2 linked regions of the Homo sapiens genome follow. The protein of the gene in region 2 interacts with the protein of the main gene of each other region in a biochemical or structural test. Each region holds a gene or a part of one and is shown on either strand. Other genes may lie near its edges.

Evidence for each region.
Region 1: the proteins of NCS1 (region 2) and PI4KB form a complex in vitro, tested with the Homo sapiens proteins (one study listed by BioGRID).

The regions. Positions count from the first base shown.
Region 1 is NC_000001.11:151,324,323-151,328,904, forward strand, and holds the start of PI4KB (phosphatidylinositol 4-kinase beta), read right to left. Parts: upstream 3,095-4,582; 5' UTR 2,949-3,094; intron 2,052-2,948; exon of another isoform or gene 1,858-2,051; coding exon of another isoform or gene 1,850-1,857; intron 596-1,849; exon of another isoform or gene 423-595; intron 1-422. UniProt on the Homo sapiens protein: Phosphorylates phosphatidylinositol (PI) in the first committed step in the production of the second messenger inositol-1,4,5,-trisphosphate (PIP). May regulate Golgi disintegration/reorganization during mitosis, possibly via its phosphorylation.
Region 2 is NC_000009.12:130,217,381-130,221,188, forward strand, and holds part of NCS1 (neuronal calcium sensor 1), read left to right. Parts: intron 1-451; coding exon 452-590; intron 591-2,344; coding exon 2,345-2,423; intron 2,424-3,808. UniProt on the Homo sapiens protein: Neuronal calcium sensor, regulator of G protein-coupled receptor phosphorylation in a calcium dependent manner. Directly regulates GRK1 (RHOK), but not GRK2 to GRK5. Can substitute for calmodulin. Stimulates PI4KB kinase activity.

The sequences.
Region 1 (4,582 bases), on a different chromosome or scaffold from region 2:
TGTTCTGCTGTTGAGGAGTTCCTCCTCATGTCTTAATGTCTAACTCAAACCTTTCTTTAAGGATGTCTCAACTCATCTCTCCCCTTTGACCTCAATGGTAAAGGTAGAGATTGAGTACTCCTTTTTCCTTATAGAAACTCAGGGCCAGGCAGTCAAGCCAGCTCCAGCCCTACCAGGATCCAGGTAACTGCTGACACAAGGGCCCAGAGAGTGTGGGCATTAGGGGAGAGGGCATTCTCAAGCTACTAGCACGAGGGTAGGGAGGGCAGTGGTCTCATGGTAGTTAAGTCAATATTGATTCAGGCTGAGAACTCTGTGCAGAGCCATGGAGCTGGTATAAGCAGATTCCAGCCAGACAGCCCAAGCCAGCTATGGGAGCCGCTACTGAAACAGATGGCAAAGAAAGCAGCCTGTGCACTCACCTCTCTCTGAATTGTTCCTCCCTACTGCGAGTCCCAAATACACTTGGACTGGGTCCCCTCTTGTCCCATGCCAATTATTGAAGGGTTCCTCCCAAACCTCTTCCCCAAATCAAGGAATCTCAATTTGCTGCTTTGGATGGTGTTCAGCATTCTCATGGAGCGTGGACTCAACTCTAAGAAGAAAGCAGGGAAATGAGAGGAAATATGATTTCTGGTTGGGGATGCTTCCAAGGAGGAAAGCTGCTTTTTTTTTTTTTTTTTTCCTGAGACAGAGTTTCACTCAGTCACCCAGGCTGGAGTGCAGTGGCGTGATCTCGGCTCACTGCAACCTTCGCCTCCTGGGTTCAAGTAATTCTCCTGCTTCAGCCTCCGGAGTAGCTGGGATTACAGAAGCTCGCCACCATGCCCGGCTAATTTTTTGTATTTTTAGTAGAGATGGGGTTTCACCATGTTGGCCGGACTGGTCTTGAACTCCTGACCTCGGGTGATCTGCCTGCCTCGGCCTCCCAAAATGCTGGGATTACAGGTGTGAGCCACCGCGCCTGGCAGGAAAGCTTCTAATAAGGGGAATTATGAGGAGACTGCACCATGACTAACGACAAGGAAGAGAAAGGAAGTGGGATAAGATGACATAACTACTCCCAAACAGACCTAGAATCAGAAAATGAATGGAATCTCACGTGCCCTTTCGCTATCACAGGCTGAGAGAGACATGGCAGCAACTAGTTGCCTAAGTCTCAGTTCACTCCAAGTTCTCTTTTCCAGCCAGCTTCCTCAAAGTGCTTTCCCACAAACATACTTTCTACCTATAGAATCTGGAGTTATGGATCAAGTACGTGAGGAACAGGACAGAAAATCAGCCACTTAATGCACTGGGGGAAAAAGCAAAGCAGATGAAGGAAGCAGGCCTGGAGCTTGTCTTTCAAAATGACTTACACCCCTGGTTGTGGACTAGAAACATCTGACAGAAAGACCAAGGTGAAGGAAAATTCTCAGGATGACTAAACCACTACTAATAAATACCTTTTGCCTGAGGAACCCAAAATGTTTTGTAAACAAATAAACCAAATCTGATTTTTTCCCCCAACCCACATCCTGCTACCAACTTATTACTGCACTGATGCCTACAGAGAGTGGGCATTTTCCAAAAGGATCACTCTAGAGGTCAAGTGAGGAAGTCACATGCTGAACCCAGGAGTCCCGATTCTGAATGTACAAGCTCTTTCCATTGTCTCATGTTCCTTTTTCCAGTTATACCCTTACCCCACTCCAGGCCTGAATTCTTATGGAACCAACCAAAACTATTCTAGTAAACCACAAGAATAAACTGATTCCTCATGGATCTGGACAGGGGTGAGAAGGCACTCTATTCTGTGATTCCTTTAACAAAAGCCTAAAATTAAATAATCTGAAACAAGTTTTCTCACAATCTCATTCAATTTCCACGCAGGCCTGTTCATCCCTCTTAGTGGCTGCTCCGGAGTAGTCAACCAAGTGTAATCTGATAGGGACTTCTTCAAAACTTGCTCCGGCCTTCAGAAACACCCTTCTGTCCTGAACGGCCTGAGGCAGCTGAGGCTCCCCCTGCTCACAACACATTTTTCTTCTTAGTTCAAGGTTTAGTTGATCCTGAAATAAGTGGTATGTGGAGATAAAGAGTGTAACAGAGAACACATGAAGCCCACGGGAAAAACAGAACAAATGTCACAAGGATCAGAGAAATCCCTGAAACTCGAGGGAGGTGTCAAAGTTGGAAATCCTGAATGGGAAGGGCACTGTCAAATCTCTCCCCTACAGACAGAAACCTCTAGAAAGTTGGGGGATTGAGGAGGGAGAAAGAGAAGCTAAAGAAAGTTATAGGGATCATAATGCATCCCAGAGAAGAGTGAGGACTAGGTTCAAAGTAAGAATGTAAATGGTACTTTTGGATTGATGACAAGGGCCCGAGATCCCTTAAGGAGAAGGGAACAGGCAATTCTTGGAAGCCAGGAGCTGGCTGGGTAGGTGGGTGACAGTGAGGTAATGGAATCAGAAGCAGCACAGGAAGACAGGGATGCAATCTTTAGCTCAGGGAAATGGGAACCCAGTGCTGGAGTTGCACAGGGACATAGGAGGAAAAGTGCAAACTAGGAAAAGAGATAAAGGTGGAGTCCATGGAAAAGGTTTGGGGCAGGGGCAGAGACGACGAGGAAGGACAAGGATGGGCATTATGGGAGTCGTCTGATATGGAAAGGGTTCATGACTTAAAAAAAAGAATTATTCGAGACGTAGGCAACAGGGATGAGTGAGGGAGGGGGGAATCCCCGAGGCAGAGGGAGGAGCTAATAGAAGAGGAAGCCAAAAAGCGGAGGAGGACCCCAGGCCTGAGAGGAAAGGGTGGAGAAGGAACCCGGGGTGCAGCTGACACCAAGAGGGCAGTTTCGTAGTCGAACTCAGGTGGGGAAGACTGTGCGGGACAGGGTGGGAGAGGGACCCCCCCCCCCACCCAACAGGGCAAAGGTGACTCATGAAGGAGGAGTAGCTTACCTCTGGGGGACCCCCGCGGAGGGGGTGCGGGCAGTCGCGGTTGGACTGCCGACACTGCCGCCTCAGCAGCAGCGACCGCTCCCGGGTTCCATTGGCCGCCTGCGCTTCCCTGACAGCGGCCGCGGAGGCTGCACCAGGCCCCGGCTGCGGGGCTGCCCGCGGCGCCGCCTGAGGGGGCCTTCAGGCTGCCACAAGTTCGACCGGGCCACACAACCTCTTCTTCCTCCCTCAGTACAACCAAGACCAAAAAAATAATAAAATAAAATAAAATTCCCCAGCAGGTCTCGATGTAGTATTCTTCTCCGGAGTCCAAGCCAAGCCTTTCTTCCCAGGATACGCTTTCCTGCTTCCCCAGCGGTCAGGACCCTACCGATTCCATAGTAATCTAAGGAGTCGGGTGAGCTGCCTGGAACATGCCTGTTCAGAAATAGAAAAGGGGGCGGGGAAAAGATGTTTGGAAGCTCTCGAGGGAGAGAGGGCGAAGGGAGGAGCTTACGGGTGGGAGGAGGGGCCAATATTTAAGAAGCGGACCTAAGCGATAGCGTTTGCGAGGCTAAAGAAGCCGAGAGAGAAGTAAAATTTGCTGCATAAGTAGGGTGAGCAGGCGGCCGTGGGTGCCCTGTTAAAGAAGTATGGACATATGCATACTTCCAGAAGTATATTAACATGCAAGTTATATGTAAACGACCGTTTGAGTAACTAACCAAATTACCGTAATTGCAATCAATGACTTTTCCCCCTCCCGTATGCTACAAGACTCCCTTAGTAAATCAGGCCGTGGGATGGACGCTGGGTTCCTAGAAGGGCGCGCAGGAAGACGGCGGACGGGGAAGACGTTCTTTCTGACTGCCCTTTTCCTACTTATCTTGGAGGACGATGCGGAGTTTAAGCTCCTTAACATTTCGGGAATGGCGCGGTCCAACCGCGTCAGTCTTTTCGCCGTTAGAGGCCCGACTCGAGGCCGTGGTTCTGCCTCCGAGGTCACCAACCTGCCTGGGCAGCCTGTGACCTCCAGCATCCATATGCCCAGCCCTCCAGGGAGGGGCTGGACAGGGCCAGGTTGGGAGAGGTGAGTGAAACGACAAAGGCTTGGAGGGCACAATCCCTTCTTCCAAACAAAACGAAACCATATTAGGCCAAACAAATAAACAAAAACACGCCATGCAAATGGGCCTCTGGTGTTGCTTTTGTGTATTTTTCGTTTGTTTGTTTGTTTTGTAAAGACAGGGTCTTGCTATGTTGCCCAAGCTTGTCTCGAACTGTTAGCCTCAAGCAATCTGCCGGCCTCAGGTACCAAAGTGCTGGGATTATAGGCCCGACCTCGCCCAGCAAGTTTTTTGTGTATTTTTCGGTTAAGATTGTTGATTTAGAGCCCTCTTTGTCCTCAGAACCTCTATCTCAATGCCTTTCCTAGGGCTTTACTTAATATGCAATGCCCCTCATTAGTGCCTTACTTAATACATTGAGGCTAGTTATTTGAGCCCGGGTCTTGAATGCCATCTTCCCTGCCACTTACAAGCCGTTTGATTTGGAATAACTAATGTAACCTCTTTAAACCTCAGTTTCTATGTCTACAAAGAAGACATATGGATGAAGTAATATTAGCCCATTACAGGGTTTTGTTAGGATCAAGA
Region 2 (3,808 bases):
GGTCTACCCACCAGCACCAGCAGCAGCCCACCCAGCCTGATGCCAGGAGGGGCTCAGCAGAGAAGGTGGGGAGGTGGGAGGGTCTTGTGCAGGCATGCGGCTTTGGGGAGGCCATTCATGTGACTCTTGTTTTAGCCCCCTTGGGTGGAGCACAGGGCTGGGTGGCCAAGTGCTCACTCTGTGTGCAGTATCTGGGTTAATTCCTATGTCAGTTCGTAACCCCCTTATGCAGACGAGGCTAGGAGAGGTGAAGTCTGTATCCAAGGTCACACTGCTAGTGAGAGGCAGAGGTGGGACTGCGCCTGTGCCTATCAAGTCCATGGCCCCATGGGGCACCATCTCTTTGAACAAGGAGCCACAGCTTTCCTGGGCCCCGGGCAGGCGATGTTGGTGGTGGGTGGGTGATGTTGGCGTCTCCTTTACCCTCTCTGGCCCGGTCTGCTGCCTCCAGGTACAAAGGCTTCATCAAGGACTGCCCCAGTGGGCAGCTGGATGCGGCAGGCTTCCAGAAGATCTACAAGCAATTCTTCCCGTTCGGAGACCCCACCAAGTTTGCCACATTTGTTTTCAACGTCTTTGATGAAAACAAGGTGAGCTGGGGATTGATGGGGCCTGCGGCAGCTGGCTCAGCTCCTGTGGGTACCCGCAGCGTCTCCACACCCACTCTCTCCTGCCGATGTTCCCTTCTAGAGAAGGAACACACACACGAGTGCATACTGACATGCACAGATACATAGTCGCACATAAATGCATGCACATGTACACATGCAGACACACAATAAACACAGATGCATCCAAATGCATGCACATGTGTGCACACATATGTACACCCACACATGTACTGACATGCACATCCAAGCTCTCACACAGACGTGTATGTGCACATGCAGGCGAATACCATGCACACATGTGGGCACACATACATGGAGATGCAGCCACACACGTGAACATACATGTATATTCATACAGTGCACAGAAATGCACACATATGCACACAATGCATGGACTTGCAGGTGCACACACGTGTACACACAGAGAGACATATACACATATGCATATGTATACAGTGCACAACACACATGCATGTATACACATGTACACCCTGACACTTCTCTTACAAGCATAAAATGCAAATACCTCCCATGATAATAACAGGATTAATAATAATAACCAATATTTCCTGAACATTTACTATGTTTAAGCTCTTTACATGGATTTTTTTTTTTTTTGAGACAGAGTCTTGCTCTGTTGCCGAGGCTGGAGTGCAGTGGTGCAGTCTCAATTCACTGCAACCTCTGCCTCCCAGATTCAAGCAATTCCCCTGCCTCAGCCTCCTGAGAAGCTGGGATTACAGGCGCCGTCACCACACCTGGCTAATTTTTGTATTTTTAGTAGAGATGGGGTTTCACCGTATTGCCCAGGCTGGTCTTGAACTCCTGACCTCAGATGATCCACCCACCTTGGTCTCCCAAAGTGCTGGGATTTCAGGTGTAAGCCCCCTTGCCCGGCCATACATGGATTATTTTTAATGAGGCCTTACAAGCACCTGGGAGCTGGGTATTTTAATACCCATTTTGTAGGTCAGGAAACTGAGGCTCTGAGAATCGTAGGCTATAGGATCTTTTGTTCCTGGCGTTTTCCACTGAGCATCATGTTTTCAAGACTTACCATGTGGTAGCTTGTGTCACCTCCGGGCAGTGGCTGCACGGATAGCTGTTGGGTTATCTGCGATGACCCTGATTCTGTCCTGCAGTAGCATTTGAGGGTGGATTTACTGCCACTTGTCTCTGTACCCCCTGCTGCTGGCACCGTGGAGGTTTCTATTCTATCCCATCCCCAGCTTCTCCCAGGTGCCCCCAGGCTGGGAGTCACATGCCTGACCCTGGGAAGGGCTCTTCCCTTCTTGGGCCTCGGTTTCTTCATTTGCAAATAAGAGGTGGAATTAAACAACCTGCAGCGGCCTTTCCTCTGCAAAAGCCCATGAGCCCACAGCTCTAGGCCGAGGGGCTTCCGGGCTGTTGCTGAGAGGAGCTCAGGCATTGGTGCTTCTGGCACCTTCTCCCATCAAGAGTGGAGTAAGCCTCTCCGTTCAGCCTCAGTCCTTCTTCCTGTGCCTCCCTCCTGGCCTCTCCCACTTCTAACCCCCCACACAGTCCCCCAGCCTCTGCTCCCCACCCTCTCCTTGCCTCTCGCCCCCCATTCCTTCGAGCCTGCCCTCTCCACCTGAGTGTCCATTGGCCACAGTGTCTGGAGCCTGCGACTGCCCCTCGCCCGTCCCGAGGTTCAGCCTGACCCGGTGGCCTGGCCGGCACTGACTGAGGCAATCCCCTCTCTCTCCTGTCAGGACGGGCGAATTGAGTTCTCCGAGTTCATCCAGGCGCTGTCGGTGACCTCACGGGGAACCCTGGATGAGAAGCTACGGTGTAAGTCCTGCCCCCTTGGCCCTGTGTGGCAGCAGCTGGAGGGCCCAGGTCAGAGGGAGGCAGCCCTCGGCCCTCACCAGGCAGGGGTGCCAGACACCCACTGCAGTGACCACAGATGGCGTCCCAGCTGTGTCTGCAGAGGGCAGGCCTGGGCCCTGGGCAGGTGGCCCTCACACGGCCACGTAACTAGGCCAGGCTGACTGTCCAGGGTTCAGAGAGCAGCGCAGACATCTGTGCTTCCAGGTGGGAGGGTTTCCTGGAGGCACCGGCAGCAGGAAGGAGCTCGCTGAGGCAGGTGGACAGGGAGGGCTGGGGGCAGAGGCTGGCAGGAGCCTTGGCTGCACTCGGGCAGGTGCAGACTTGGGCCGCAGGAGGGTCGGTGGGGACCCAAGACCCAGGTTCAGTGCCGGACCCACCTCTTTCATAGCCATTGCTTTGATTCTTGCTTTCAGTCATTCACTTACTCACTCATTCATTGACCAAATAACGACTGAATGCAGCCACGTGTTGGTACCAGGGATCCACTGGGGGATAAGATAGATGGGTCCCTGCTCTCAGGGCGATCAGTCTAGAGTGGCAGCAGGATTTAAAAAAAAACCTCAGGAAACTGCAGGCAAGGAGGAGAGAGGGAGTTGTGAGCAGGAGAGGACCTGCCTGGTAGGCGCAGAGCTGGGGATGAGAGGAGCTGGGGATGAGAGGAGCTGGGGAGGGGGCGTTAAGGGCTCCAGCCAGGGGGCCCGCGTGTGCGAGGCCCAGTGGAGGGAGGCTGAGAGGGAGTTGGGAGGGGAAGCTGTGCAGGCCCCTGGCGGCATTAGGAGGAATGCAGGGTGCGTGGAGGGGAGGGAAGATGGAAACCAGCTGGCCAGAACTCCCTGCTCAGTAAGACTTTCACACTTCAGTCCATCGGCAGCAAGAAGACCCTGCAGTTTCTTTTTCTTTTTCTTTCTTTCTTTTTTTTTTTTTTAAGAAATAAAAGAGAACTTTATTTATGCAAAAGCTCCTCCTCTCAATGCACTATTTTATTTTCTAATGTTGACTGTAGCAGGCCACACCATAATTGTGGGAGCAGAGTGGACTGTGGGGAGGAGGTGGGGGCTGGAGTTGGGGGAAGGAGAGGGGTGCTCCTCTGGGTAACATCCCAGGCCCCGGGCTCTCCCACGCACTCAGCTCCAGCCACTGATACCTCGGCCCTGGCAGCCCAATGCCCCATCCCTTTATTTTATTTGTTTATTTATTTATAGACAGAGTCTCGCTCTGTTGCTCAGGCTGGAGTGCAGTGGCACAATCTCGGCCCACTACAATCTCTGCCTCCTGGGTTCAAGCAATTCTCCTGCTTCAGCCTCCCAAGTAGCTGGGATTACAGGCATGTGCCACCACACCTGGCT